Linked DNA regions of Homo sapiens: region 1 is linked to region 2. A link means that fine-mapping ties the variant in region 2 to the expression of a gene that starts in the linked region. Tissue or cell type: prefrontal cortex. Region 2 holds a variant in brackets; the other region holds the start of a gene. All regions are shown on one strand. Distances are between the middles of the regions. Region 1 holds the start of LINC02347 (long intergenic non-protein coding RNA 2347). Region 2 overlaps LINC02347 (long intergenic non-protein coding RNA 2347).

What was found.
Region 1: LINC02347 starts here. The variant in region 2 is fine-mapped to the expression of LINC02347 in prefrontal cortex (BrainSeq, PIP 0.95).

Annotation. Positions count from the first base shown.
Region 1 is chr12:126,436,762-126,447,708 of GRCh38, forward strand. LINC02347 (long intergenic non-protein coding RNA 2347) reads left to right here and starts at 5,720. Exons shown (of 12, transcript NR_130748.1): 1 at 5,720-5,827; 2 at 6,205-6,266; 3 at 8,124-8,292. It overlaps LINC02825 (long intergenic non-protein coding RNA 2825), which reads right to left. Exons shown (of 4, transcript NR_147498.1): 2 at 8,659-8,809.
Region 2 is chr12:126,472,643-126,483,589 of GRCh38, forward strand. LINC02347 (long intergenic non-protein coding RNA 2347) reads left to right here. Exons shown (of 12, transcript NR_130748.1): 12 at 1-143. Among named protein-coding and RNA genes, the nearest start is that of LINC02825, 29 kb to the left of the region's middle. RefSeq lists a silencer at 7,821-8,115. The variant C/CAAAAAAA (reference allele first, on the strand shown) is at 6,346.

The DNA.
Region 1 (10,947 bases), 36 kb before region 2:
GCTACTCTAGAGATCAAAAGGCGAAGAAAATAGAATGCTGGGGGGTGTCTCCATGGCACAAGAGTGGGCAGGACATGTACAAAAAAGTCCAACAGGATTCAATGTGATCAGGAGAGGATTCACTGACAAACAACAAACAGAAAAAAAATGCAAAGGAAGACAAACATAATAAACAACCTGTGGACAGTGGGGCTCTGATGCACTGTCTCCCCCAGACATGCAGGAATCAGGCAGAAATGAAGTTCCCCGCTCAACATGCCCTTTCTGTCTTCAACACCATGCAGTCTCAATAGCAGAGGTAGCATCCTTACAGGAGCAAAATTTGCTGGTGGGGTTGTTAGGGAGCACAAAATAATGCAAGCCTAGATGCAGTATACAAACAGATATGCAATACATCTGCAGCATAAACATTTCATGGAGGGAGGGAAATGATTAGGAAATAGTCTTAAAAGTCTCCTCAGGCTGAGAGAGGTCAATAATGAAAAACAAAGTTGAAACACTGCCTTACACAACAGCCACACACAAACACACAAACACACACACAATCGTAAAACAGAATAACAGCAAAAACATCTAGTTATAATAAAACAACGCAATAGACAGATCATGTGTGAAAACCCTGAAAAAGCAAGTCAGCAGGAATAAAAGAAAATGTGAAAATTAAACGTTTGAGAAATAATTCAACAGCATTAGTAACAAAAAGAATCAACATAAAATTACGAATTACTTATTTTCACTGATCAAACTGAAAAATATTTTAAAAGTTTGCGTTTTCATTGCTGGCAGAAAATGTTGAAGTATGCACCTAACAGGATTACTAGGAGGTCAAAAAATTACTGTAGGCTTTATGGAGGGTGATTTGACAATTGCTTTGGAAGTGAACATACCAATTGCCTCAATACTTTCTCTCCTATGTATTTATCTCAAGCAAATAAACTAAAAAATTAGAGGCTTCTCTGAGATAGACATTTCTATCTCAGAAAAAGTTCAAGCAGAAATAAGTGGCTGACTAGTGAGAATTTCAGTGAAACTTTCTCATAAAGATAATGGTAGGATGAAATGCAGTATCACATCTGAAATGTTAAGAATTAACTGTATGCTGTAGAAACAGAACTACATTAGAACTATGAAGATGTTCTAGGTCCTAATTATAGTAGCAATAATAATAAAATTAATGGCTCATATTTATTAAGCTCTCAATGTGTGCCAAGCACTGTTTTAAGCATATTTGCATGTTAACTCATTAATACTACAAAATGCCTCTGTAATGTGGGTGTTACAATTCTCACTCACCATGAGCAAAATAAGGCACAGAGTTTCCAAGCACCCTGCTGCAAGGCAAGCAGTGCATAAGTCACAGAACCAAGGTCTTAACCAGGCCACTGTGTCCACAGTCTTATCTCCTACTTTGCCTTTCATGAACTGGCTTTGCTTGAAGTCAGTACCTGAATGTTGTTTCTCTTTAACTCCGCTCTAGTAACTCACCAGATCTGTATGCCCTTCCCAAGTTACAAAACACTTGCAGCCACAGTTATGTTATTTCATTTTCTCAACAAGCCTTTGGAAAGGGTGAGATAGCAATATTACCCATTTGTGTGGAAACTAAAGCTCAGAGGGGTTTGTTTTGTCTTAGAGACTTCACAATGAAGTATGGGAGACACTCCTGCTATAACTCAATGGCTCCCAACTGAATACAGGCTGCTAAGCTCAACTTGGACCTACCTGAGATGCCCTTTGATGACAGATGCATGTTATTGCACCTGCAATATTTCTCAGTCAGAAAGATGATATGATTCTATGTGTCCAGCTTGTCTTGTGCACACCCGTTTTCTACTGTTTGTGTTCTAGAATGCCAACTGTTTGCTTCATTATTGTTTCAAGGATCTATCACCCCATCATAAACTACTCCAAATTAGGAGCTTAAAGCAATCATTTATTTGCTCACCACTTTTGTATCAGCAATGCAGACAAGCTAGGATGAGAGGGGCTTTCTCTGCTCCACGATGTTTGGATCCTTGGCTGGGATGTCACAAATAGTGGTGACTCAACTGGGATCACACACCTCAGGCCTCTGTGGTCACTGGCGGCCTGGTTACTTGGGTCATCCCTATCCACATGGCTTGTGTGAGCTTCCTCACGGCATGGCAGCCGCATAGTGGCTGGAGTTCTTACACAGTGCCTGGTTTTCCCCAGAGAGAAAGCAAAAGCTGTTGGACCTCTTATAGACGGTGACTGGAATCATCACAGTGACCCGTTACCACCTTCTCTTGTTCAAGGTAAGTTATACTGCTAGCCCAGATACAAAGGGAGGAGAAATTGACTCCCTTTCTTAACAGTTTGAGTGTAATGTGCGTAGAAAGAGGAATAATATTTATGATAGCCATCTCTGGAAACTATCATAACAATTAGATCTCTTATTAAAAAATTAATATAAGCATTTGATAAAAAATTCAAATCGTGTAGATATATCTACTGCATCCAATGCTAAGAGATCTTTGTGATTTATGCACTGTGCACTTGCATTGCATAGAGAGAGGGAAGATGTGGGATTTCTTTTTGCCCAAATAGAAACATACTATATATGCTCTTCTGCACTTTATTTTTATATGGGGGCAGGATGTAGGTCTGATTAACTTTTGCATTTCTGCCATACTGCCAAGTCTATTTGTGGAAATGTGTTTTTTAGTAATGTTTTCCAAAGGTATTAAATTAGGAGACACAAACTCCAATGCCCATAGCAGCCTAACAAGTGATATAAATGAGTGTCAGAAACCAGGCTAAGGCAATTGGGAGTGGTGGGGACTGCGGTGTCCTGAAGATCTAATGCCACCTCTGAGGCAAGCAGCTGCTACTCTGCTCCTGGCCTTTGCTGCTATGCAGAAACACAGGCCCAGCATTGCCACATCTTCTAAACTTTTAAAGAGTAGCCTGAAACCCAGGACCCTGCATATAAAACCCCCTGAACTTTGGCTATTGAAAACCAATGTGATTTTAAAAGCAATGACATGTAGGCCAAGAAAATATACCTATAGGCTGCATTCAGCCTTGAGTCCGCCAATTTACACCTTCTACAATGTTCTCATTGAGGAACCCCAGTGGGTACCATGACTCCCTCCTTCTAAGCTGTCTTTCCTAGGTTTCATCTTCCCACATATGGGCAATGTTAGAGGCACTTCTGCCTCATTTTATAAAATTTGGCCATTTTCTACCAGGCCTTAAAGAGAAGAAGAGATGGAGTTAAGTGAGAAAAATATGGCTATGTGGGGAGTAAAGTGAATATTCCAAAAGTAAGTATCCTCTGGGATTGAAGAACGAACGAAGTGGACAATTATTCAAGTGACTCTTCTGTCTAAACTGGCCTTGGGTAAGAAAATATGCCCGTAGGCTGCTCTGTATTTTTCTACTCTGGGTGGCCTAGCAGCCTACCTGGCCCAGGTGATGGCTTTCAGGGACCACACTTTAGCTGGGCAATGCACAGCTTTTCCGGGTTGTTATGTACAATTTCAGACTAACCCTCAAGGTCTACCCAGGATGATTAATCTTGAAATAATTTCAGATGCCATTTATTATGGCTTGGAGCTTAGGAATATCTTCAGACCCATTGATGGGAACACTGACTCCTGAGCACAGTCATTTGAGGTGTCTTTAAACAGAAAATTTCAATGTTATCTCAGTTGGGACACACTTTTTCAAAAGCACGATCGGTTGCCAAGAATAACAGGACTTCATATTGCAGAGTGAATTCAGAGGATCAAACTCCAGGAGCCTTCGGATGTCTGATTATTGGATCATCCTGTCTGGCTGCATAAGATGCATCCACGATATTTACTTGGTGCCCACAATATTCCAGGATTGTCCTAGTTGCTTATACGTATTTGTTCTGATTTTATTGGTGTGTAAAGGAGCCCTTGCCATCTTTTCTTTTTTTTTCTTTCTTTCTTTTTTTTTTTTTTTGAGACGGAGTCTTGCTCTGTCACCCAGGCTGGAGTGCAGTGGCGCAATGTCGGCTCACTGAAAGCTCCGCCTCCCGGGTTCACGCCATTCTCCTGCCTCAGCCTCCCGAGTAGCTGGGACTACAGGTGCACGCCACCACGCCTGGCTAATTTTTTATATTTTTAGTAGAGACGGGGTTTCACCGTGTTAGCCAGGATGGTCTAGATCTCCCGACCTTGTGATCCGCCCGCCTCGGCCCTTGCCATCTTTCTACTTGAAAATGAGATTGAAAGTTGTTTCAGCTCAGATCTGAACTAAACACTTTTTATGAACCAAAAGTTCCCACCCGCGGGGCTTAAGAGTTGCATTAGTGCCAAATAATTGACTTAATTATTTTTAGCTTAATGAAAAATGTCTCATTTTCTACTTGATTGATTGATTCTGTATCCTTTTAAAAATTTTTTTGGTATGACACAACTGTCTGAACTATGTCTAGCTCTGTTTATATTCTGACTTGGAGGAATTCTGGGAGCCAAATCATAGCTAAACGTGTGAATCTTCACTAATCGAAATGGGTGGAATTTTCTGTAAAGATGCAAACTGGCTTGACTGTGTCCAGTTATTGCTCCTGAATCCTAACTGCAGTGAATGGAGGGAGGGGCAGTGTACTACGCGAGAGGGTGGGTCCTGAAAACTAGACATCCCTGGGTGCTAGCCCTGTGTTGAACCTCTTTCTCGTGCAGATTTGGACAAATATTTATTCTGCACTTTAGTTTCCTTATCTGTAAAATGAATATGATAAGAATTATGTTTACTTACAATATAAACCTCTTCAATGAGTAGAAGCAGTGAGAGACATAGTATAAGTAATCAATACACGCTAAATGTCTCAGAAGTCATCTTAGAACATTAGTAGAATGTATTTTTTATAGTTTGATTTTAAATTCACAAATAGTAACTGTATATATTTATAGAACAAAATGTGATGTTTTGATACCTGTATACATGGCGGAATGATCCAATTAGGCAACTTAGTATATCATCACCTCAAATATGTATCATTTCTTTGTTATATGAACATTACGTGTTTTTGGACTAAGTGAAACAGAGACTGTTTGGAAAGCCATAGAAAGTAGCCACCCTCTTTTTATCCTCACACCAAAGAAAAGCTGACCACTTGCTAACCAGCCCACTTATTTCACCTTAAAGTAAATTGAATCTGGAACCCTGGATCATTCTATGAAATTTTCCAAAAAGCTAGTCAGAGGCCGGGCACCGTGGGTCACACCTGTAATCCCAGCACTTTGGGAGGCTGAGGCACGCGGATCACCTGAGGTCAGGAGTTCGAGACCAGCCTGGCCAACATGGTGAAACCCTGTCTCTACTAAAAATACAAAAATGAGCCAGGCTTGGTGGCGGGTGCCTGTAATCCCAGCTACTCAGGAGGCTGAGGCAGAATAGCTTGGTCCCGGGAGGCAGAGGTTGCAGTGAGCTGAGATCCCGTCATTGCACTCCAGCCTGGGTGACGAGAGTGAAACTCCATCTCAAAATAATAATAATAATAATAATAATAATAATTAAAATCTAGTGAGAAAGCAAAGTAAACTCAAGGAAGTCCTGGCTTTGCGATTTTGTTTTGTTATTCCTAAGCACTGCCTCACCTGCTCTAGCGTGGGAGCTGAGTCGTCAAGGGGAAAGACAATGAAATTGCTCTAAGTTATCATCTCTCCAGGCATTGTTCTGTAATAACTGTCACTGTTAACAGAAGAGGCCTCCCTCCTGCAGTGGGAATACCAGGGGTGGGCACTGTCAAGAGACCCAGCTTTGACTTCAAATGCCACCCAGAGGGACAACTGCTCACTTTCAGAGCAGGAGCAGGAGGCCAGAGGAGAGTGTGAGTCTAACATCTGCACAGTGAGAAGTCCAGGAGAAGCAAAAATGAGATCCAGGCTGGAGCGGCTGTGCCAGAGTAACTGTTCCAGCGGGTGTGGGGGAGGGTCCCCCAAAAAGACTTACCTGGACTGAATGGGAAATAATAGAAAATAGGAGCAAGAGACTGTCACTTTATAATAGGTTCTGTTATGACCTCCTACAACAATATGTTAGAAATTATGATTTCTAATATGTCTATGATACAGATAGACATATAGTTAGAAAACTAAATAAAGAGACAGATTTTGAGCTAGGTATACTTACAGATACAGACATTGATATCATAGATAAACATGTTCTTTATTTTTATATTGTCAATGTTTGTGTTGCTGGAAAAAGGGGTCCCTATGATCCAGACCTCAAGAGAGGGTTCCTGGACCTCCCACAGAAAGGGATTCAAGGTGAGTTGTAGAGTGTAGTGAGAAGAGATCATTTATTGAAAATTCTTCAGATTCAGAGTAGGGTGTCCTCAGAAAGCAAGAGGAGGAATGCCCTGTCTTTGTTTTAAACTCTTCTTACACAGGGGTCTCATCTACATAAAAGCTAAGCTATCTCTGTGTGTGGGTGGGCTGACAATGTGACAAGATGTAGTACTTTGGCCATTTAAAGAAAGTTATCCTTGGCATTTTAGTTTATAAGTACATGAAAGCATGATTGTACATTTCTTAAAAGCATATATTGTTATGTGATATTGGGACATGTGGACTTTCTGCTGTTGTAGGAGTTTGTCCTTGCAGGCATTGCCAAGCGGTTTCCTCTGCAGTAAACATCTTATGACCACGGGTCATAACTGGCAAGGAATGTGTGTTGCGAGTTTAAAGATGGAGTTAATTTTAAAATGGTGACACCTGGCTCTCTAGGCGCCTGCTTTTCTAACTTTTCTAGGTATAAACCTAATCTTCCTTGCTAGATCACAACCTCCAATGATCTATTTTTCATCTTCAGTTGTCCCAAGCACTAGCTTGTTCTGCGAGCGTCTCGTGGTCATGGAAAACTGATAAAGCACAGCATGAGAGGCTCAATGGATAAGAAATTATAAAGAATCACTAAATTTGCATAGGTGTTTTGATTGTGACCTACCGAGGAAGGAAGTGGAGAGGGTGTGTGGGAGGGAGGACAGCAGATGTGTAGACACGGCTTCATTTGCCTCCCACCGGGAATTTTGCCCGAGACTTATGGAGAGAATGGCCATTGGCAGAGACTGAAAGAGTTGATTTGATTCTCTGAGGCCTGATGCACTTGGTGAATTGTTTTGGGGTCTCTGTGGCATTAGGATAGGGGCTTTTTTTCTTTTTGTTTGTTTTGTTTTGTTTTTTTGGTCAAATGTCCTGTGTTTCAGGTTTCAACCAAGACTTTGGGAAACCAGGACTACTTGAAACCCTGATGGACTGCAGTGTTCAAAGAAGGAGGGAACAAAACCCTCTGGAAACCTCTGGAATTAGTGGCTGGGAAATAGCCCTTGGTTACTCTATGGACAGCAGATGTCCCAGACAGAGCCAGAGCCTAAGAACATGGGAGGTTTTTTCGTTGTGGTTTTTGTTTCTGTTTTGAGACAGAGTCTCGCTCTGTCACCCAGGCTGGAGCACAATGGCATGATCTGGGCTCACTGCAACCGCTACCTCCTAGGTTTCAGCGATTCTCATGCCTCAGACTCCCGAGTAGGTGAGATTATAGGCGCCCACCATCACGCCTGGTTAATTTTTATTTTTTATAAAAATGGGGTTTCACCATGTTGGCTAGGCTGGTCTCAAACCCCTGACCTCCAGTGATCCACCTGCCTTGGCCTCCGAAAGTGCTGGGATTACAGAGCCGCTGTGCCTGGCTAACATGGGAGGTTTTTAAATATCTGTGTTTCCAGAATGAACCGGTGAGTCTTTGAAGTCCTTGTATGAACAGGACTGGGCACAAGTCAACCAGAATAATTTGCAGACATGCAAGCTGTTTGTATCCAGCGGATCAATAGCAACCTGTTTTAGCTTTCCATCTTTCTTTAAGGAAATGTCCTATCTCCAATACTACTGTGAAATTCTAGAGCATAAGAAGAGAATAAAGTCTTGATGTACGGTTTGGTTGGTAGGCAGAGCTCCACCCCACCATCTCCTTGGTGACAGTGCCCCACTCGTGAGAAGGGTACTGTTTCTTCCCTGGTGTTAGTGTTACCTAGTATAATGCCTATGTGACATAGCTGAATTTCTACCCTATCCTAACTCTGCTACTCTTTAAGGATGCCTGCAATAAAAAGTTCCCTTTTTAACCAGACCAGCTGAAACTGATTAGAGCCAAGATAGCCAACCAAATGACTTCAGGAAGACCTCAGGCTTCATTATCATCTCATTTCCATGCTAAAAAAACCCAGCTCCCTAGAACAATGGGAAATATTGGGCACTTCATCAGGCGAGTTCAGGTGCATTTCTAGAGATTGTCCAGGTGAGTCAAAGAGCAAATGCCATGAAGTAGCCTCAGCCCTTTGGGTCATGGGAAACCATTTTTGAAATAATATTACATATTTGTCAGAGTTTGAGCTGGGCAAGGGATTAGCCTTTTCTCCAACTTCACAATCAGATTAAGAGGAAACAAAGCCTCAGGACAAATTCTGCCATACACATGAGTATTTGATAATTAATACATATTATCAATAGGAACACAGCGGTCCATACATTCTGTAAACTGTACGATACCCAGATCCTCTATCCTTGTAAGTGATCCAACTACACATTCTGTAATGGTCTCTCAGGCTGCAATAACAAAATGACACAGCCTGGATGGATTAAACAACAGAAAGGTATATCTCATAGTTCTGGAGGCTGGAGGTCAAAGACGAAGGTGGGGTGCTGGCTGGCTCAGTTTCTTCTGAGGTCCCTCTGCTTGGCGTGCAGATGCCACCTTCGTACTGTGTCCCAGCTTGGTCTCTTCACTGTGCGTATCTCTCATGTCTCTTCCTCTTCTAGGAACACAAATCAAACTGGATTAGGCTCCATTGTTAGGACCTCCGTTAATCTTCATTAGTTCTTTAAAGGACCCTATATCCAAGTACAGTCACATTGGAGGTTCAGACTTCAACACATGAGGCCTGGCGTGGTGGCTCATGCCTCCAATCCCAGCATTTTGGGAGGCCAAGGTGGGTGGATCACCTGAGGTCAGGAGTTCGAGACTAGCCTGGCCAGCATGGTGAAACCCTGTTTCTACTAAGAATACAAAAATTAGTTAGGTGTGGTGACACATGCCTGCAATCCCAGCTACTTGGGAGGCTAAGGCCGGAGACTTGCTTGAATCTGGGAGGTAGAGGTTGCAGTGAGCAGAGACCACCTCACTGCACTCCAGCCTGGGGAACAGAGCAAAACTCCATCTCAAACAACAACAAACAACAACAACAACAACAAAAAGAAAACAAAGACTTCAACACATGAGTCCTTCAACACATAACACATGCCATAAAAGATCCCCATGGGACAGTTATGACAATGTTCTAAAAGAAGAAATCCATCACAGTTGGCATCTGGCAACCTGAATTTGCCATCTCAGTGACTGGATGGAGGGTGGTTTAGGGGTTTGACTTCATGTGCTCTCCCTACAAGTATAGAGTATGGGGCTTATGAGATGGTGAGACCTTGTTTTGCAGGTGTGAGGAGTGACTGATTCAGTTTATTCCATCTGCCTTTCTCGTCAATGAAAGCCCATTTTCTACATCCATGTTGCTAGAGAACACACCACTACACTTTCCAAGGAAATAGCATTTCTAGATGAATTACACTAGCTAGTGAGACCTCCAGTGTTGAGCAGACATAGAAAATGGCAGCTGACAGGCTTTAGTGAGAACTTCTGGACTGTGGACTTTCTAATTGGGCATTTGCTAATCAATGCAGGAATGTGAGTGTTTGATTACTGAAACTGCTACCCCAGGAGGTGAATTAAAACTAATTACCTTCATAGAAGCAGAGAGTATAAGGATGGTTGCCAGGGCCCGCAGGGAAAGGAAAATAGGGAGATATTGGTCAAAGGGTACAAAATCTCACTTATGCAGGATAAATAAGTTGTGGAGATCTATGTACTGCATTGTGACTATAGGTAATAATCCTGTATTATATACTAGAAATTTGCTAAGGATTGAAATATTAAATGCTCTCACTAAACACACACACACACAATGGTAATTATGTGAGATGAGATATGTTAAATAGCTCGATTGTGGTAATTATTCCACAATGCATATGTATTTCCAAACATCATGTTGTACACCTTAAATGTCTACAATTTTATTTATCAATTGTATATGGATAAAGATAGAAATTTAAATAAAATATATACTCTTTTACATCGCATTGTCAGAACTAAAGAAGAAAGGAGACTTCCAACATCATGACATGAATCGTTTCTGATGATGTCTAAATCTCCTCACAATTCCAACATCAGTTCCACTTTCCTTGAGAAAAATAAACCAGAATCTTTGTTTGGCTATAATGTTTCCGACAGTCTGAAAAAGAAAGGACTATCTTATTAGTAGCATCCAGAATTTTAGTTTTGCATATTAAGAAAGGTGCCGAACACCCTAATCTCTCTTTTTATGTGGATTATGGACCCAGGGAATTTGATACCCATTCTGAGAAATTGTGTAAAATTGAGTAATTCCAATTAGGTCTTTAAATTGAACAATGGTGACAACACCAGCTCTTTTTCCCTAGTAAAATAAACAAGGAAATATTTAAAGAAGGAGGATGCTTGTGTGGTAAGAGTTATTAAGAAATTATTTTAGGCGGATAGAGATAAAAAGGGGTACTTGGGAAATTTTCATTTTTAAAGACATTTCCTGTCTAGCTGGAAAGCCCCAGCTGTTAGAGCCAGGTGGGCAGCCTTTGATAAGCAAATGAGAGCCATTAGAAACTAGGTCCACCCACACATGGGGATTCTGGCTGCCTTCTTGCCCTTGCCCCACATGTTCCTGGCAACATGGCCACCCCCACATATCCCCACGTGTGTGGAACATCATGGCGGCCTGTATTTGCATATTCAAAGGCTAGGGTGGGAGGGTCAGTTTTTTCCAGGGCTACGTAAATGACATGCCTGGTCAAACCTATCCCCTAAGCC
Region 2 (10,947 bases):
GAAGATGACAGTGTCCTTGCAGTATCTTTTAGGGGCTATCAGAACATGATTTCTGCTATATTCTATCATCGGAGCCTTAATAATGTTAACTATAATTCAAGGGAAGATCAAATAAACTTCACCTTTCAAGGAAAGGAGTAACAGAGAATGTGCAGGCATTTTTATACACCATTGACATGGAAAAAAAAGTCCTTCAAGGATTTCCAGTTTCAGATTCTACCTATAAAGAGTTCAGAAGTCATTATTCATAGCCTTACAAATAAATAAATAAATAAATAAATAAATAAATAAATAAATAAATAAATGGAATATACAGAAAGTCCATAACTTCTCTTGGACTCATCAGATAATTGAGATCACAGACCAAACTGACATCCCCAAATCTAAAGGGACAAGCAAATCCAGAAAGACAGCACAAGTGAGATCTTTTTATGTGGAGTAGAAGCCACAAAAAATATAAACTTGAGAAGAAAGTCAGAGGCATTACATTACCCAACTTCAAACTATACCACAAGTCTACAATAAACAAAACAGCATGGTACTGGTACAAAAACACACATAGACCAATAGAACAAAATACAGAACCCAGAAATAAAGTCATACGCCTACAACCATCTGATCTTTGACAAAGATGACAAAAATAAACAATGGAGACAAGACTCCCTGTTTAATAAATAGTGCTGTGATAACTGGCTACTCATATGCCAAAGAGTAACACTGGACCCCTACTTCTCACCATGTACAAAAATAACTCAAGATGTATTAAAAACTTAAATGTAAGACCTCAAACTTTAAAAATCCCAGAAGAAAACCTAGGAAATACCATTCTGGACATCAGCACTGACAAAGAATTTATGACTAAGTCCTCAAAAGCAATTGCAACAGAAACAAAAATTGATAAGTGGGACCTAATTAAACTAAAGAGTTTCTGCGCAGCAAAAGAAATTATCAATAGAGTAAACAGACAACCCACAGAATGAAAGAAAATATTCACAAACTATTAATCCAGTGAAAGTCTAATATCCAGAATCTATAAGAAACTTAAGTCAACAAGCAAAAAACAAATAACCCCATTAAAAAGTGAGCAAAGGACATGAACAGATACTTCTCAAAAGAAGACATATAAGTGGTCACAAAACCTATTGCTCAATATTGCTAATCATCAGCAAAATGCAAATCAAAACCACAATGAGATACCATCTCATACCAGTCAGAATGGTGATTATTAAAAATACAAAAAAAAAAATAGACACTGGTGAGGCTGTACACTGTTTGTTGGAATGTAAATTAGTCCAGTCACTGTGGAAGGCAATTTGGAGATTTCTTAAAGAATTAAAAACAGAACTACCATTTGACCCAGCAATCTCATTATTGGGTATATACTCAAGGGAAAATAAATAATTCTACAAAATTCTGTGGCATTAGCAGCATGCATATATGTTCATCATAGCACTGTTCACAATAGCAAGGATATGGAATCAATGTAGGTGCTCATCAATGGTAGATTGGATTAAGAAATAAAGTGGTATAGACACACCATGGAATACTACCCAGCCATAAAAAAGAAAAAAATCATGTCCTTTGCCGTAACATGGGTGCAACTTGAAGCCATCATCCTAAGTGAATTAGTGCAGTGAGAGAAAACCAAATACTACATGTTCTCACTTATAACTGGGAGCTAAATATTAGGTAATCATGGACATAAAGATGGTGACAATAGAAACTGGGGACTACTAGAAGTGGAAAGGGGAACGAGAGAAAGGGGTGAAAAACTACCTGTTGGGCACTATGCTCACTAGCTGGGTGACAAGATCATTCATAAACCAAATCTAAGTGTCACACAATATGCCCATGTAACAAATGTATACATGTAACCCCAAATCTAAAATGAAAGTTAAAATTATTAAAAACAATGCAACTCCAAAGTAAGAAAAAAATATATAATCCCCAAACTGCCCAATCAAACAATGGCAAAAGTCCTGAAGAGACACTTTACAGTGTTTTGGTGGCAAATAGTATATGAAAAGATGTTCAGCATCATTCACCATTAAGGAAATGAAAATGAAAATAATGACGCAATGCAATTGTACAACTATTAGTATGGTATTGTATTGCTGGTGGGATGACAAAATGGTACTGGCAATTTTGAGGAAAATTTGGCAGATTCTCAACAAAGTGTAACATAGTCTTATCATTACAATCTAGCTACCATGTTCCTAAGTATTTAACCAACTGACTTAAAAATGTATTTTTGGCCAGACTCCATGGCTCATGACTCAGCACTTTGGGAGGCTGAGGCAGGTGGATCGCCTGAGTTCAGGAATTCAAGACTCAACCTGGTCAGCATGGCAAAACCCCATCTCTACAAAAAATACAAAAATTAACTGGACATGGTGGTGCATGCCTGTAGTCCTAGCTACTTGGGAGGCCGAAGTGGGAGAATTGCTTGTGCTTTAGAGGCTGAGTTTGCAGTGAGCTGAGATCATGCCACTGCACTCCAGCCTGAGCAACAGAGCAAGACCCTGTCTCAAAAAAAAAGCATGTTCACACCAAATTCACATATGAATATTTTAATAGATTTATTCATATTCAACAGACACTGGAAGTAATGGAGATATAGTTTTACAAATGATTAAACAAACCTGGTACATCCATACAATGGTATATTGTACACCAGTGTAAAGGAATGAACTGTTCAGAAACATGAAAATGTGAATGAATCTTAAATGTATATTGCTACTGAAAATGACCAATCTGAAATGGCTACATGTTGTATGAGTCATGAAAAAACAAGGACACTTTGAGGAACTGTCATAGCATAAAGAAGCCTAAGAAGATATGGCTACTAGATGGAATAAGGTATTCTGGATGAGATCCCGAAATAGAAAAAGGACATTAAAGAAAAACTAAGAAACCAAAATTAACCTGAAATAAGTATGGATTTTAATTAATGATTGTATTAGTCCATTCTCATTCTGCTAATAAAGACACACCCAAGACTGGGTAATTTATACAGGAAAGAGGTTAAATTGACTCACAGTTCAGCATGGCTGCAGAGGCCTCAGGAAACTTACAGTCACGGTGGAAGGGGAAGTAAACATGTCCTTCTTCACATGGCAGCAGGAAGCAGAAGTGCAGTGTGAAGCCCCTTATAAAATCATCAGATTTCAAGAGAAATCACTCACTATCATGAGAACAGGATGGAGAAAACAGCCTCCATGATTCAATTATCTCCACCTAGTCCCTCCCATGACACGTGGGCATTATAAGACCTACAATTCAAGATGAAATTTAGATGGGGACACAGTTAAACCATATCAATTATAATGTATTAATGTTGATTCATTAGTTGTGACAAATGTTTCATATTAATGTAAGATGTTAACACAAAATGAAACTCAGTGTGGGGTATGTGGGAACTCTCCCTATTATATAAATTTATAATTTTATAGATCTAAAACTACTTTGTTTTATTTATTTTTTAAAAAGCCTATCAAATTTGTATCTAGACTCTTAGAGGAAGAGAGAATAGGGTAGAAAAAATACTTGAAAAAATCACGGATAAGAAATATCTAAACTTGATCATGGAAATGTAAGCATAGATTAAAGAATTTCTACTAACCCAATGCAAGAGGAATACAAGGAAAATAAAACACTTAGACACACCAGTGCAAACCAATGAAAACAAAAACAAAGGGAAAAACACACATTCTATTCAAAGAGGCAATAATAAGAATTTTAGCTAATTTCTCAGCATACAAAATTGGCCAGGCACAGTGGATGGCTCATACCTATAATGCCAGCACTTTGGGAGGCTGAGACAGGAGGATCTCTTAAGACCATGAGTTCTAGGTCAGCCTGGGCAACATTGTAAGACCCTGTCTCTACAAAAGAATTAAAAAAATATTAGCTGGGTGTGGAGCACATGCCTGTAGTCCCAGCTACTCAGAAGGCTAAGGTGTGAGGATCACTTGAGCCTGGGAGGTAGAGGCTGTAGTAAGCAGTGATTGCACCACAGCTCTCCAGCCTGAGAGACACAGCAAGACCCTATCAAAAACAACACACACACACACACACACACACACACACACCACAAAACCAAAATTAAGTCTGAAGACAACCAAATCAAATTACATAGAGAGTAGAATGATACACATTGGAGACTTGGAAGGGTCAGGGAGTGGGGAGAGGGGTGTGGATGATTAGAAATTATTTAACGGATACAATGTGCATTATTCAGATGATGGACACACTAAAAGCCCAGACTTCACCACTAGGCAAAACAACCACTTAATAAAAAATAGCATTTGTACCCTTAAATTTATACAAATTAAGTAAAAGAGATAACTGAAAGAAAATGCCTGTCATCTTTGAATTCTCTATCTAGAAATAACATACCAAAAAAGTTTAAAATGAAGGCAAAATGAAAATTTATATAAAAGAAAGACTGAGAGAATTCAGTGCCACCAAATGTACACTAAAAACCATACAATTTGTTAGTGTGTTAGGTTGTTCCTGCATTGCTATAAAGAAATGTCTAAGGTTGGGGTCATTTATAAAGAAAAGAGGTTTAATTGGCTTATGGTTCTGCAGACTTTACAGGAAGCATGGTGCTGACATCTGCTTCTGGTGAGGCCTCAGGGAGCTTCCAATCATGGCAGAAGGCAACAGGGAGCCAGCACATCACATGGCAAGAGCAGGACAAAGAGAAAAGGGAGGAGGCACCACACACTTCTAAACAACCGCTTCACTCATCACCAAGGAGATGGTGCTAGGCCACTCATGAGGGATTCATTCCCATGATCCCAACCCCACCCACTAGGCCCACCTCCAACACTGGGGATTACATTTCAACATGAGACTTAAAGGGACAAGTATCCAAACCACGTCAGTCAGTTTTAGGGATAGGAAAATCATTTCAGACAGATAAATATAAATGAAAGGAATAATGAATACAAATTTTTAAAAAATCTGTGATAAACCTAAACTGCATAAATCAATCATAATAACAATAATACCTTGTGAGTTTCAAAATGTATGTAGAATTTAAAAACGTGAATCCAACAAATCAAAAGACAGAAGAAATGGAATGAATTAAAATGTCTTAAATTGTTAACATTTTTAAGGTTATGATGAAAGCATTAATTTATCTTTAATTATTATGAATTATGAATCAAAGATGCACATCATAGTCTCCAGGGGAACTGAATAATAACATGCTAATGGAGGATGCTAAATCAAAATAATCTGTTAATGCAAGGATTCAACAGGAGGGAAAAATGAATGCAGCAAACGGAAACAAATCTGAACACAAACATATCACTAAAATCATCACACGTAAATTAACCAACATCCAATAAAAATTTAAGCTTTGTCAAACAAGATAAAATGTACAACTCAGCCACATAATGCTTACACTATAGGGATTTTAAATATGAAGACATTTCTTCATATTTAAAATATGGAAGAATAAAAGTAAAAGCCCAGGGAAGCATTATTCAGACAAGAAACAAAAGTAGGCTGGCGTTCTTTTAACAGATTTTATGGCAAAAAGTGCTTCAAAGTATACGATGATGTGACGAGAAAGCAAGTCTAAACAGCACATACAAGTGGAAAGCAAAAATTTGACAGAACCAAAGGAAGAAATATAAGAAATAGACAATCACAGTGGGAGATTTTCTCAAACCTCTCTTAACTGATAGAGCTCTGGCATAAAATGTTTAGGAATATAGGAGTTTTGCACTGCAGAAATACAGGCTTGATCCAAATGGCGTATTAGAACGCAGAAGCCAACAATCACAGAACATGGAATATGTCCCCAAATTGTCCACAAGCTTTACCACCCAGCCAATTGTAAGCCATTCAAATAATTGAAATCGTAGCGTATCTTCTCTTCTCGCTGTGGAATAAAACTAGGATGATGATGATGGCAACTGCATCACCCCTAAATGGACAGATTTAAAGAAATCGTCTTCTAAATAGAGCATGTCACAGAGCCATGCTGTAAATTATGAAATACTTTCATCTGAGTAATTATGAAAATACTATATATCAAAGACAGCTAGGCCAGGCACGGTGGCTTACACTTGTAATCCCAGCACTTTGGGAGGCTTAGGCGGGCAGATCACTTGAGGTCAGGAGTTTGAGACCAGCCTGGTCAACATGGTGAAACACTGTCCCTACTAAAAATACAAAACTTAGCTGGGAATAGTGGCGCACACCTGTAATCCCAGCTACTAGGGAGGCTGAGGCCGGAGAATCACTTGAACTGAGGAGGCTGAGGTTGCAGTGAGCCAAGATTGTGCCACTGCACTCCAGCTTGGGTGACAGCGAGACACTCCATCT[C/CAAAAAAA]AAAAAAAAAAAAAAGGCAGCTAAAGCCATATTAAGCCATATTTGAAAGGAAAATTATAGCAATAAATGCACATATTAGCAGAGAATTGCCCTGGACTTGGGGACTCAGGGTGACCTCCCTTTCCGCAGTGGCAGAGTAGTCGGACCTTCAGGCCTCCCCAGCTTCTTTCCTGGCCAGGGAAGGGTTTCTGGCCTCCCAGTCACACAGGGGCTTCTAAGCTCTGCCCAAAGACCTGGCAGCCAGGCAGGGCTCAGCTTGCTGGGGATGTGGTGGGGTAGGATGAAGGAGGGAGAAGGACAAGATGTGTGTGTTAAGGAACAGAAAGGGGTTGTGGCTCTGTCCTGCCCCTTCCCCGGGTTCTGAAGTGTGGTGGGGCTCAAGCCATGATCCCTCAGTCCAGCAGAAATCTGTTCCAGTGGCCTAGCATCTCCGCACACAGGACAGACTCCACTCCAGCCCCTTAGGCTCTCCCTCCTCCCGCACGTGCTGGTTCCTTACTCACTGTAAGTGAGATCTCTGTACAAGATAGTGAGAAACATCAAACCTTGGCATCTACACCCTGGAGCTCTGACACTTGAAGTGGGAATTGCAATTCTCCCAGCAAGGATCTTACCTAGGACCCTTTCCTCTTATTTATTTACTTATTTATTTTTGAGACAGGGTCTCCCTCTGTTACCCAGGCTGGAGTGCAGTGGCGCAATCATAGCTCACTGCAGCCCCAATCTGCTGGGCTCAAGCGATCCTCCTGCCTCAGTCTTCTGAGTAGCTAGGACCACAGGCCCATGTCACCACATCCCACTATAAATATATATTTTGGTAGAGATGGGGTCTTGCTATGTTGCCCAGTCTGGTCTCGAACTCCTGGTCACAAGCAATCCTCCTATCTTGGCCCCCAAAAGTGCCGGGATTACAGATATGAGCCACCTCAACCGACCCCCTTCCTCTTAAATTGCCCTCCCTGCCCCTCCCTGGAAGCCACAGTCTTTTGGCCACACATTGATCCCACAGATATTTGCCAGGTATCAACTCAGGTGAGGCCCTGGGCTGAGAAATTGGGAAAATGGCAGCCGACCCCCCAACCCCCTTCTCTGCATGACGACCTTCAGAAGAGGGGCTCAGAAGTGTGGCAGTTTGCAATCCACAGTGAGATGGAGAAGAGGAGAAGGGGAGGAGAAAAGGGTTCCAGAGGAGTGGGGGGCTCTGTGACCCAGGAGGGGCACCCTGGAGAGACAAAAGCCTGCACAGAGGAGGTGGCAACAGACAATCCCAGGCTCTGGTCAGAACTCTCCCACCTGCGCACGTAACGTGGGTGCCTTTCATTGTATAATTACACTCACTAAAGTTGACTAAAAACAAGCCGTGGAGAAAACACATAGAGGATCTTTTCTTGTCTAATAGTAGATTAAACAAGCTCCAGGCCACACAAAACATATTTTCTATGCGTTTCATCCAGTTTTCAGAACATGTATGAGACGTTTCTTTTAAACATCATTTTGTTTGTTGAAAATTCTTAAGCTTCCTCAGCGACCCAGAGCTGGAAACCCTCCCACAAACGCATTCTTTGATTTGGGACCTTAGGGGCCCCTCCTCTTTTTCCTTGGAAATGCTTATTCACCTCATCCCCAGCACAGCAGGGCTCAAGATAAACGAGATCATCTTTCCTCAAGTCTCTTGCAACAAGAAAGAGGGGGAGGAAAATCAATATGTGTGATCATCATTCTTCTCCATCCGCCGTAAATAGGCTGAGGAGGGTCATTATTCATCTCCGCTGGCGAAAATCGGATTATAAGTGCTGGGGAAGCTGAAAGCAAATTTCAAGACCAAAATATGTTCCTTCCTCCATGGCTGAACTGCCTGCTGCGGGATTTTTAATTGCATTTGCCCGTTTCGAGATGTACGGCATGATTCCAGGCTTGGATCTTGGGTCTGTAGTTTCTAGGCTGTCATTCTTACCTTTTAATCAGTTATTAAAATGACTATATGGCAGCTTTCCTATATAGAAATCATGGGTTTTTTTTTTTTTTTTTTTTGAGACGGAGTCTCGCTCTGTCTCCCAGGCTGGAGTGCAGTGGCGCGATCTGGGCTCACTGCAAGCTCCGCCTCCCGGGTTCACACCATTCTCCTGCATCAGCCTCCCCAGTAGCTGGGACTACAGGCGCCCGCCACCACTCCAGGCTAATTTTTTTATATTTTTAGTAGAGACGGGGTTTCGCCCTGTTAGCCAGGATGGTCTGGATCTCCTGACCTCCTGATCCGCCTGCCTCGGCCTCCCAAAGTGCTGGGATTACGGGCGTGAGCCACCGTGCCTGGCCCATGGTTATTATAAATGGAGTATTATTATTATTAGAGGAAAGCATGGAATTATATATGGAAAGGCATATTTTCTGGTACCGCTTTGCCACCAGACAAAAAATGCAAAGAGCCCCTGCGGATATGTAAGAAATTGTCCAGCTCCCAGTGCCCTCAACCCAGTGCCCAGGAATGAATTAACCCCACAGCACCCTTGCGAAGAAAGGCAAAGCAAGCAAAGTTTCACTGGGCCTGGACATGAAGTTAAAGAATTAATACTATGTGACGGGTAGGTTGGCAGAAGCACAGAATATACACGTGGACTCTATTTACACCAGCACTGTGGTGGAGTGACCTTTAGTTGCAGCTCAAGTGCCTGAGGCATCCATGGTGACACGGGCAGGTGAACGTAGCATAGACTATACGGCATCCACTGTGCACCCAAGTCTAGGTTAGTGTGTTGGTTTCCGAGAAAAAATAAAAAGATACATGCTACCGTTCGAAAAGTTTGCAGCCTTGGCTGGGAAGACAAGGCACAGCCACATAGAAAGCGTAGGGCTGTGGGCTATTCTTTTTATAAAGGTGATGCTTTGTACCATATTCTCCTTATATTTACTCACTCCTCAACAAGCACACCCTCCCACGCTCACACTCCTCCTTCCACTTGAGCTACTTAAACTAGACATAATGTATGGTGTCTTCATCATGATCTATATTTAAATTATAGTGACACATTACCAAGATTCAGGGTCTGCATTTCTCTTGCTGTGGTGAGAGAGAATCTTGATGAGGTACAAGGCAGTATTTTGTGTCTTTGCATTCTTACTGTCAAAGCAGAGGGCACGAGTGACCGACAGCACTTTGAAGGTAAAAGCAGACTGCATGTCTTCACATTTCACAGAACTCGGTCCTTTTGTCAACAAGATATTAAACTTTCTCTGGCTTACTTTGAAAACTTCTGCTATGTTTTAAGTGCCTTATTTGGAAATCAACAAATAAAAGTTTCCCTAGCCTTTTTCTCCTATTATTTCCCTCCCCAAATTGTTTTTTTAAAGATAATTAAGCCACAACTGCCTTATGATGCTGGGTTTTCCAGAGAGGAATTCAGTAAGAGATGAATTGCCCTTGAGCTCTATCTGTGGGTCCTTCCTTCCTCCCTCCCTCTCTCCTCCCTCCCTCCTTCCCCACTTCCTCCCTCCTCCCCCACTTCCTCCCTCCCTCCTTCCCCTCTCCCTCCCTCCCTCCTTCCCCCCTCCCTCCCTCCCTCCCTCCCTCCCTCCCTTCCTTCCTTCCTTCCTTCCTTCCTTCCTTCCTTCCTTCCTTCCTTCCTTCCTTCCTTCCTTCCTTCGTTCCTCATGATGCCTACTGTGACTGCGCCCCTTCCTAGTGCCTGGGGAAACAGTGTTGAAAGTGACAGCTTAGGATCCTGGTCTCATGCAGCTTACAGCCTAATGCAGGGATTCAGTCAATAAAACAAGGAAACAGACTATTGTTAGACTGTGATAATGCTGGGATGGAAGGGTAAAAAGAAGCCAATCTGATGGAGACAGACTAGAATGGGGGTGGTTGGGCTATCTTATTAGGGTGAACAGAGAAGGCTTTTCCTAGGAGGTGACATAAGGGATCCTTCTTCTAAAGGAAAAGGATAAAAAAAGAACCCAGCCATATGCAGAGGGTTCAGGCAGAAGCAGCAGCAAGTTCAAAGGTCCTAAGATGGGATGGGCATGGACTGATTCAAAAATGAAAGACAGGCTTCAATAGTGTCAATAGCTTGACCGTAATGATTACTTACTACCTGGCCAATTATCAAAAAGCTATTTATTGATAATATTGAGAAAAACCAAAGCATATGCTCAGATAATAGGGATATATCGGTTTGCTTATATTTCTTCTCTAACAAGCCTTATCGTTATTTTCATAGGAATATAGAAATAATATTCTAAACTACCGATGGCTTAATATACTTTGCTGAAACAGCTTAGACCCTTGTTTCAAATCATTTTCCTTCCAAAAACAACCTACACACAAACTATTTGCTTTGTTAGTCAGAACAGAACAGAACTGGAATTAGTCACTCATGATAGGTATGAGTCACTTATAAGCCTGTTTTTCTTTTTCCTATTTGTATCTGCAATAATCAGATGAAAATCAACCCCAGCATTATCCAAGAAATTCTATAAATTAAGGCGATATTAATACCCTTGTTCTTTCCCTAGTGATGGTGGTTCTCACCTTTTTTACTGTTCATGCATATTTTCATTCTTTCAAAAGCTGATTTCATTTCTTCCAGTCAAATGCCTCTATTTTTCCAC